2 separate regions of the Homo sapiens genome follow, and region 2 is linked to region 1. Evidence: fine-mapped expression QTL. A gene starts in region 1. The other region holds a variant in brackets. All regions are shown on one strand. Distances are between the middles of the regions.

What was found. PIP is the estimated chance that this variant, and not a neighbour inherited with it, causes the effect. A credible set is the group of variants that fine-mapping cannot tell apart.
Region 2: its variant is the best candidate, but not a certain one, in a credible set for the expression of IL4R in whole blood (TOPMed, PIP 0.82).

Annotation. Positions count from the first base shown.
Region 1 is chr16:27,311,075-27,316,590 of GRCh38, forward strand. It overlaps IL4R (interleukin 4 receptor), which reads left to right and starts at 2,900. Exons shown (of 11, transcript NM_000418.4): 1 at 2,900-2,946. RefSeq lists enhancers at 91-1,290, 2,113-2,843 and silencers at 2,621-2,920, 2,941-3,150, 3,591-3,640.
Region 2 is chr16:27,347,853-27,352,852 of GRCh38, forward strand. IL4R (interleukin 4 receptor) reads left to right here. Exons shown (of 11, transcript NM_000418.4): 7 at 4,688-4,844. Among named protein-coding and RNA genes, the nearest start is that of IL4R, 36 kb to the left of the region's middle. The variant G/A (reference allele first, on the strand shown) is at 2,164.

The sequences.
Region 1 (5,516 bases):
ACAGGCTTCGACTTTGCTTCTTTCTCATTTTCATCCTGATAAGAACAGCAATTGACATTTTGAATGCCTAATCCACGCCAGGCACTATTCTAGGCACTGCGATACGTACCTTGCCATTTCACCATTTCATAGCCCTATGAGGTGGGTCTATTATTATCCCCATTTTACAGATGGGGAAACTGAAGCACAGGGAGGATGATCTACTTTGCCCAAAGTCACATAGTCAATACGTAGCAGAGTTGGTATGCCAATGCCGGCAGTCTAGAGGCAAGCGAGGAAACCGACGAAGGATGACTTGACTGGGAAAACAGGATGGGAGCCCAGTTTGGGAGTCCAGGAGGGGATATAGCCCAAGCCATACATTCCCAAAGGACTTCAAAGGTAGACTTTTGCTGTCGTCTCCCGATGACATGGGGCACAAACTCAGAAACACAGACAGGACAAAGGCAGCTTGCAGGGCTGAACTGCCTGGGATGAAGCATCAACCGTGTGGGTGTGCGGATGTGTGAGTAATGAGTGTGAGGGAGTATGAGTGTGGACGGGAGTGGAAGTCACACCTAATCCAGAGGATTCCTATTCCTCCTGAAACCCAAGCTTCCAGGAAAGCCCTTCCTGTGGCCTTCTCTCCCTAGTCCTCTTAGCGTCTGCCTGGGCTGCCCCCAGTACGGGGTTTATTACACTCAATTGCTTACATCTGTTCACTTCAATTGCTTACGTCTGCTCACTTGTCAGTGCCCCAACCAGGTCCTCAGGGCTAGGAAGCAGGGGCTGGATCTATTTCTTGCTCTCCCTAGCCCCCAGCTCACGACTTGGCATATGGAGGCATCCACAAACAGATGCCGAAGGATGGGAGTTTTTCCACACTCCCACGCCACCTCCAGGTATTTGCTCATGCTGTCCCTTCCACCTGCATGTTTTTCTGCATTGATTCAGGCACTGGTCAGAGGTCACCTCCTCCAGGAAGCCATCCCTGACCCCAGGGAACTGACTTATCTTTACTGTCACTTCCGGGGGTGGGTTGGTGGCTGTCTTGCTCACTTGGTTGTAAGGTCTCAGAGGGCAGGGATTGTGTCTGTTTCATGTCTTCAGGTCTGCGTCATCAGCGCTTGTCACAAGGTTAGACACACAGTAGGACCAAGACAGACCAAGTACATGAAAGAATGATTGACATATGGGCCAGGCGTGGTGGCTCACACCTGTAATCCCAGCACTTCGGGAGGCAGAGGCAGGCAGATCACCTGAGGTCAGGAGTTTGATACCAGCCTGGCCAACATAGTGAAACCTCATGTCTACTAAAAATACAAAAATGAGCCGGACGTGGTGGTGCACGCTTGTAATTCCAGCTACTCAGGAGGCTGAGGCAGGAGAATTGCTTGAACTCAGGAAGTGGAGGTTGCAGTGAGCTGAGATCACCCACTGCACTCCAGCCTAGGCAATGGAATGAGACCCCATCTTCAAAAAAAAAAAAAGAATGATTGACGTGCAGTGGCCCCTGCCCTGGGAAGCCAACCCTCACCCTCCACCACAGCACTTGATCCCATTGGGCAGTCCTTGGCTTCCACCCTCAAACTGAGAGCTCCTTGAGGGCAGCAGGGGGTCAAATTACTCTCTGGGTTCTCAGCACTGCCCAGTGTGAGTCCAAATATCTCCCACCTCCCCTGTCTCCGCTCTTTCCTCACTCAGGGCTCCACAGCCATGCCGGCCTTCAGCAATTCCTCCTGCAGGCTGAGCTGGTTCCCACAGGGCCTTTGCACTAGCTCTTCCCTCTCCCTACACAAGTCTTCCCCCATAGGCTCTTCAGAGTCTCAGCTCAAATGGCCTCTACTCAAAAAGCCTCTTCCAGACCACCTGCCCCACTGGTCTAAGAGGTCCCTACTTTCTTCTTGGGCCCTCCTGACCTGAAATACTTTGTTGAGTGTTTTCCCCCCAGTCATCTGGCTGCATCCGGGTTCTTATGGTGTCCAGACGTTAATGGTCTATGGGGCCTGTGTTCGAATCCCAGCTCCACCCCTGCTCCTGCTTACCTGCAGAGTGATTCTGAGTTTCTTTCTTTTCTTTTTTAAAATTTTATAAATGTCAATTTTTGTAGATAGGGGTCTCGCTAACAGGGTTGCCCAGGCTGGTCTCGAACTATGGGGTTCAAGTGATCCTCCCGCCTCAGCTTCCCAAAGTGCTGGGATTACAGGCATGAGCCACTTTGCCCAACCCATTTTGAATTTCTTAAGGACTCTGTGCCTCAGTTTCCTGATTTGTAAAACCGGTGATAGTATCACTCCCTTATAGGGTAGTTGCCAGGATTGAACGAGTTAACATTTGCAGTGCCCGACAGATTGTACTAGTTACTGATTGAAGGGCTGTTTTACTATCCAAATGTGGCTGGAGTAGGAGTTGGGTAAACATTTATTGAAGAATGTGCAACCACTCTCACTTGGAAGCCGGGCTGTTAGGAAGGGGAGGAGGATTCCAGTCGCCCAGCCCTCCCCCACCAAACGCAACTGCCCCGGCGCAAAAGAGGCCGCGGAGGCCAGGCAGGAGCAGGTCCTGGAGGCCTGGTCGGCGTGGGCGTTTTATTCCGAGACCAAGGGGATCCACTGCAGAGTTCTCCGCTGGGCGTGACCTCGGGCTACGGCGTGGGAGGAAGCGCGCGGCAAGACACCCAGCGAGGTGCTGGGGTCGCCCCCAGGAGAGGACGGCGGCTCGGACTGTCCGGCGGCGGCGGCGGGGACAGCGACAGGGGCGCGAGGTGGCCGGGACCCGGGCCGGGCGCGCCGGGCGGGGCGGCGCATGCAAATCTGCCGGGCGCCGGGGCGGGGAGCAGGAAGCCGGGGCGGGCTGGGTCTCCGCGCCCAGGAAAGCCCCGCGCGGCGCGGGCCAGGGAAGGGCCACCCAGGGGTCCCCCACTTCCCGCTTGGGCGCCCGGACGGCGAATGGAGCAGGGGCGCGCAGGTAGGATCCGGGGCCCGCGCGCGGATCGGGTTGCGAAGGTATCGCCCGGGCACGCCGGCTGAGGGCGTTCGGGAAGGGCTCGGCCGCCGGCGGGGACCACGGGGACCACCCCGACTCCGAGCGGGGCCCGAGCCCGCGACTCTCGGTGCGCGCGGAGCAGCGCCCGGTTCCGTCCTTGCCGCCGAACGGCAGCGGAGGCGCGAGGCCCGGGGTACGTGGACACCCAGCGCTCCCCAAAGCCGGTGCTGGCAGTGAGACCTCCGCCGGGACGGCCTGCGGGGGTGGGGGGCTTGGGGTTAGGCTGTCGGAGGCCACGCAGCCCCTCTTCTCCGGGCAGTGGCGCCCAGCCCTGCGCTCAGGAAGTCAGTGAGGACTTCGGAGAGAGAAAGGGTGGGGAAAGTTCTGAGAACTGTAAATTTGAGTAGTAGGTCAGTGAATCGGGGCGGTCTCCGCCTCCGAATATCAGATGGACCCAATAATCGCGATCATTGACTGGGACTTGTTTTACTGAAAGGATGCCAAGTGAAACCTCCCACTAACTTCTCTGTGGCCGGTGCTGTGCGTCATGGACATTGTACAGATGAGGTCACCAAGACCCCAGCCGCTTTAGTAACTTGCCCTAAGGTGCCGCCCACTTGGGAGTCCGTGGGGCAGCAGGACTAGAGCCCAGGCAATCCCACGCCAGAGCCAGCTGCTCTCCATCTCTCAATCACGTTTGAGGAGCCCCCACAATAACCAGAATCTCCGGGAGATTTGCTTAAAATGCAGATTCCCAGGTCCTTGCCCTGAGATTCAGATTCAGTAAACCCAGGAATCTGATCTTTATTTTATTTTTAAAAATTTATTTTATAAAGATGGTGTCTCACTATGTTGTCCAGGCTGGCCTCAAGTGATCCTCCCACCTCGGCCTCCCAAAATGCTGGGATGACAGGTGTGAGCCACTGAGCCCTGATTTTTTTTTTAAACAAAATCTGGATTTCTTAGACTTAAGCAAGATAGGGGACCACTAGTTTGTCTGCTTCTGGGGTTCAAGGAATGCCCCCAGGCCAGCGCTAACCCTGCTCCAGTTCTAGTCTCTCCCCTTCCCCAGCCCTCTGGGAGGCATGACCCACTGCACTTCCCTGCCCCCAGTAGCCTATGAGGAGCCCAAGGCATTTGCTGGGACCTCAGTGCCTTTATCAAAATCCCAAAGTCCAATGGGGAAACAGGCTCAGGTGTAGGTTTGGCCAGGGTGTCCTGCACATTAGGGCATTCCAGGGTCCTGCAGGGGTTTCTTAGAACTCGGCTAGCCCAGCCCATGAATGGGAGGTGACCTGCTAAGCCACTCATTCACTCACTAGCACTCATTCAGCTCCTGCGAGGCCCTGGGTGGTGTTCTGGGCACTGGTGCTTGCCTCAAGGAGCACCCCCTCTGCAGGAAGACAGACGTGAGGGCTGGGAGGGTGCGGATGCACCAGCGGCTGCAGGACCACAAGCCAGAGGGGATCAGCTCTTCAAAGGTCACTGGGCCAGGCTTCCCAGCACCCAGGGACCCTGAGCTAGCCTTGTGAGTAGAGCAGGGGAGTCTGGCAGGTAGAGGATGGGAGGTAAAGGGAGGCACAGAGTGGGCGGAGGCTGGGAAGTGTGAAAGGGCACTGTGTACAGAACCTAGGGAGTAAGCAGAAGCCAGAGATGGATGGAAAGTTGGGCTGGGCTGCATTGTGGAAAGCCTTGAATGCCATGCCAAGGAACTTGGGCCAGTGTATTCACCTTGGCTTGAGTTGTAAAAGCAACAATGCAGATTCCTGGGCCCCACCCTGGGCCTCTGGATCTGAATCTGGAGGGAGACGCTGGGGAGGCAGCAGGGAGGAAAACCTGCAGTCACTCACCCCATTTACAACACATGCAGTTACCGGCAGGTCCGAGATAACCTAAGGGTTTCCAAATGCTAGGAAGTGACTCAATGACTGATATGTTTAATACAATACAATCCCGGTTGCAAAATGCCCAGGGCAAGGGTGGGGGTGTTCAGTTTTCTAATGCTCCCAGTTCAAAAAGGAGCTGAAATGAATTGTCAAAGAAGTGACAAGCTGGGCGCAGTGACTCACACCTGTAATCCCAGCACTTTGGGAGGCTGAGAGAGGATCGCTTGAACCCAGGAGTTTGAGACCAGCCTGGGCAACATAGTGAGATCCTGTTCCTACAAAAAAAATTTAAAAACTTAGCCAGGCGTGGTAGCAGGTGCCTCTAGCCCCAGCTATTTGGGAGGCTGAGGTGGGAGGATGGCTTGAGCCCAGGTGGTCAAGGCTGCAGTGAACTATGATTGTGCCACTGCACTGTAGCCTGGGTGACAGAGCGAGACTCTGTCTCAAAATAAACAAATACATAAATACATGAGAAGAGAGAACCTTTTCTACCTCCCCCATCTCCCTGCCCTCTTCCACCCACCCCATCTGGGACGATGGAGGAGAGCGTTTGGGATTAGATGCCCCACCTCTCGACTGCCCTCACTGGTACCTGGGAGTGAGGCCAGGACAGAAGCCGCCTAAGTACTGTTCTTCCTCACATTTGTAAAAGTGAACTTTCTTGAG
Region 2 (5,000 bases), 37 kb after region 1:
CAGGGCTATGACAGTACAAGGTGTGTGATACAGATGAGCTCCCCTGTTTGGCCCACATGTGTCCTAAAAGCCATGTGCCCTTTCTCTTGAGTGCCCCAGGCCACAGAGATCCCCATCTGCCCGCTGTCCCACACACTGGTCTGTCATTTGTTCCTTGAGGTTTGTGAGGGCCGGCTCTGTGCATCCCAGGGGCCCAGGCTGGGCCTGGTTGGCTCTCAGGGAGCAGGCACCCGCCACCTTAAGCTCCCATGCTGGTGTCTGTCACTGCTTCCTCTCAATCTGGCCAAGCCAGGGGTGTCGATTTATATCTCTCAGGTCTGGTTTCCCCTTTGGCACTGGGCCAGGTATGGGGAAAGAGCAGGAATGGGGCAGTTGGCTCACACAGCAGAGGCTCAGAAAGCGGGGGGCATGGGGGGAAGGAGTGCACAGATGCTAGAGAGTGGGGCAAGTTTTGTTTGGTCAATAAATCTCCTTCTCATGCCCCAGGCCTGTGCAAGACCTACAGAGAGTCCCAAGGATGGGCTGGGGGGAAGAGAAAGGTACCACCTTCAGAGTCCAAAGATATGTTATTTAATATTTTCATATTTCTAGATCTGCCTTCAGGCATGGCTGGATCCAGCTTCTAGGAACCTGTCCAGCTCTGCGCCCTGCTTTATTCTGTACTGGCTTCGTTTTTAGGCAGGCTCTTCCCTCATGTAGTGGCAGATATGCCTACTAGTTGCTCCAGGCCTACATCCCAAAGCCACAGTGGGAAAAGGGTTTTTTTTCTTGACGGTTCTAATAAGAGTCCTAAGGCTGCTGCTCAGTGGCCTGGCTTCGATGCTGTGCCAGCCTCTGAACCAATCACTGGCTGTGGGTGGAGAGAGGGTGCTGGTGGAGGGCCCTGCTTGTCCAGGGAGGAGTCACATACCTGCCTCTAGGGCTGCAGGTGGGCTCAGCTCCATCCAAACCAGATGAACTGAAAATAAGGCAGGAGTGGCTTCCCCAGGGGAAACTGGGGAAGAGGAAGCAGGACTGTGCTGGCTAAAATGCCAGCCAGGTTTAAGACGTGGCACCAGATGCCAGTCATGGGATTGGATTGGTCAGCATGCCTGGGCTATGGCTTAGGGGTATGTTGGTGCTCAGGGATGCCACAGGCCTCCAGATACCAGGTCTGAGGCAGAAGAATGAAGTCCAGCTTCTCTTGTGGGTGGAACAGTGGCAACTGAGATACCCCATCTCTCCCTTCCCAAGAACAGAGCTGAACATAAAGAATTTAGTGATTGGCCAGAGCTTGGCCACATGCTCCCCTCTGATGAATGATAGGCCAGGTGATGGGATTGGCACAATTGGCTTAGACTAATGAGGGTTGGCCCTGGAGTTGCAGGCAGTGGAGTTCTGTCCTAAGCAGTGGGCACCTAAACCCGATGGCATAAAAGCTGGGCGGGTGTCCACCTGCATCTGCCACAGCACTATAGGCACCAACTGTGGCTCATACTGAGTGGGATAAATTCCAGAAAGAAACATTAGGAACTTACTATAGAATTTTGGGGCTAGAGCTACTCATTCATTCCCCTAGATAATTTCTAGGCAAGGTTCCATAGTGGAGGGGGAGTTTTGGCTTGGGCATTGAAGGATGCATAGGAGTTTTCTAGATGGGGAAAGAAGGGAACGGTAGACCAGGCAGAGGGAACTGCATGATAAAAGGTTTATGGGTGTGAAAATTCATGGAATGTTTGAGGATTATGGGGTTGGGGGATGTGGGAATATGTGTAGCGATAAAGCACCAAACAAAGCCAAAAGTTTAGTTAGAGCCCTGAATGCCTGCCTCATAATGGTTTCCATATTTTATATGCCTACTATGTGCCAGGCACATTGCTCAGGGTCACACAGCTGGAAATGGCAGGGCTGAGTTTTTGTTGTTGTTGTTGTTGTTGAGACAGAGTCTCACTCTATCACCCAGGCTGGAATGCAGGGGCGTGATCATGGCTCACTGCATCCTTGACTTCCTGGGATCAGGTGATTCTCCCACCTCTGCCTCCCAGGTAGCTGGGACTACAGGCACAGGCCACCACGCCAGGCTAATTTTTTGTATTTTTAGTAGCGACAGGGTCTCGCCATGTTGTCCGGGCTGGTCTGGATCTCCTGGCTTCAAGTGATCCCCCTGGCTCAGCCTCCCAAGGT[G/A]CTGGGATTACAGGCTTGAGCCACCGCATCCAGCCCAGATCTGAGATTTGCACCCAGTATTTGAACTCCCAAGCCTGTGCTCTTTTTCCTCCCATGGACATTTCTCTCAGAGATGGTCTCCCAAACACCTGTCCTTCTTGTTAAAAAACAGACAAACCGCAAGTAGTTCTTTGGAAGCTCAGATTTCTCTTTTGTTTCTTAGTAAAACATTTCCCAGTTCCCAGCTCCCTTCCAGGGTGTAAGATTTCTTCGGTAACTTACATCTAGCTGTTGCTTCTTGTTTGCTCATGTTTAGAAAGAAAGACAAAAGAGAGTGAGAATTTTCTCTCCCTTCCCCAGTCTCCCCACAACTCACACCCCACCCTCAGCTCCCTCTGTAATAGGAAAATCTCTGAACTCTCTGTAGTTGCTCCAGCAATCTTTTGGAACTTTGCTTCTTTCTTGTGAAAAAACCTCCCCTTGGCTCACTTTGCACCAGGTTTCCCCAAATGTGCTTCCAACCACAAGCAGAAATGGAGCTGCCAGTAACCAGGAAGAAACTGCCGGGGGCTGAGGAAGAGGAGAGGGAGGTGCATAGCCCTGGATCTCGCAGGGAGAGGGGTGACAGGATGAGAACTCAGGTTGCTCACTTGCCATCAGGGTCAGTCATGAATATAGCGTTCATGTATCACTTTTTAAAGCTTTTTTGGAGGGTAAAAGTAATAGTTACACAAAATAAAAATACAAATGGTACAAAAGGACTTAGAATGGAAACATGTTTCTCTCCCGACTCCAGCCTCCTGTTTTTCTTCCCAGAGACTGACCACTGCTGTCTGTCTCTTGCCAGAAGGGAAAGGGAGGCAAGGTTAGGGCAGGCAGAGGGCATGTGCATCCTTTAGAGAGAGCTTATGTCTATACAAGCAAATGTGTGTGTTCAGTCATCGCTGTCTTAGTTTTCTATTGCTGCATAATAATGGTACTACCAGCTTCACAGCTTTAAACAACACCCATTTATTATCTCATAGTTTCTGTGGTTGGGAGTCTGGACATAGCTTAGCCAGGTTCTCTGCTTTAGAGTCTCGTGAGGCTATAATCAAGGTGTGGGATGGGGCTGCAGTTTCATCTGAGGCTCAATTGGGGAAGGGTCACTTCTAAGCTCATACAATATTGGTGACATTCAGTCCCTGGCAGGCTGTTGAACTGAGAGCCTCAGTTTCGTGCTGGCTGTTGGTTGTAGTTAACCCTGAATTCCTTCCCATGTGCCCTTTGCAAAGCCATCAAGGCAGAGAGACTTGCCTAGCAAGTAGGATATTACAGTCTTCTGTAATATAATCACATCCATGAAATCCTCTATATATCCCATCACCTTTACCATATTCTGTGGGTTAGAAACAAGTAGCAGGTCCTGCCCACACTCGAGAAGACCAGATGACACAAAGATGTGATTCAAAGTGGGGATCATCGGGGCCATCTTAGGTTTGTCTGCAGTGATCACTGTGCCATCTCTCTCTCTCTCTTTTTTTTTTTTTTTTTTTCCGAGACGAAGTCGTCACTCTGTCACCCAGGCTGGAGTGCAGTGGCATGATCTCAGCTTACCACAATCTCTGCCTCCCAGGTTCAAATGATTCTTCTGCCTCAGCCTCCTGAGTAGCTGGGATTACAGGTGCCCGCCACCACACCCAGCTAATTTTTGTATTTTTAGTAGAGACAGAGTTTCACCATGTTGGCCAGGCTGGTCTTGAACTCCTCACCTCAAGTGATCCACCCACTTCGGCCTCCCAAAGTGCTGGGATTACAGGCATGAGCCACCATGCCCAGCCCCATCTCTCTTTAAAAAACAAACAAACAAACAAAAAACATAAAAAGAAGCAGAGAACACATACACATCTGCATCTTCCCTTGTTTACTTAACAATAGATCTTGGAAGTCACTTCTCAGTAGAGGCTAGGTTGGGCAGAGCATTGGATTCTAGGCCAGTGAGTTTGGACTTGACCATGGAGACACTAGGAAGCCCATGAAGGACAGAGAGAGATGCCTCGACCCTGCCAGTCCTTTAGAAAGATCACCCAGTGCTTTTTGTATACCAAACCCTATTTGAAATACTTACGTATATTAACCCATTTCCTTATCACCACAACCCTGCGGGAAGGGAGATAGGCACTTTTATTATCTTCATTTTGCAGATGAGGACATTGAGGTCCAGAGAGGTTATGTCACTTACTTAAGGTCACACAGCCAGGAAGTGGTAGTAGGGACTCTTACCCTTGTTTTACAGATGAGATTGAATTATCTCACGAAAACTCAGAAAGGTTAAACAACTTGCCTAAGTAACATACAGCTAATTAGTCGAGGAGCCTGACGCATGTTGCTGTAGCCTGGTCACAGTTACAGAGGTGGCAAGCAATGGCCTGAACAGGACGAACAACCAAATACCCAGGCTGGTGGCTCTTAAACATGGTGGGGTCAGCTAACGACAGCAACCAGGGTGGGCACTGGTGCCCCTCGCCCCCGGCTGGTGCCCTAACATCTCCCTTTTCTCTACCAGTTCAGAATCTATAACGTGACCTACCTAGAACCCTCCCTCCGCATCGCAGCCAGCACCCTGAAGTCTGGGATTTCCTACAGGGCACGGGTGAGGGCCTGGGCTCAGTGCTATAACACCACCTGGAGTGAGTGGAGCCCCAGCACCAAGTGGCACAACTGTGAGTATCAAGAGGCCTAAGCAATGGTAATCTCCACTCTCCATTCTTCCCCTGTGGCCAGACACTTCCCCTGGCTGAGTCTCTGGGCTTTTATATCATAGGATGCCTCTAATGGCAATCCTGCCATTAGATACACCTGCCGTGGTGTATCTGCCA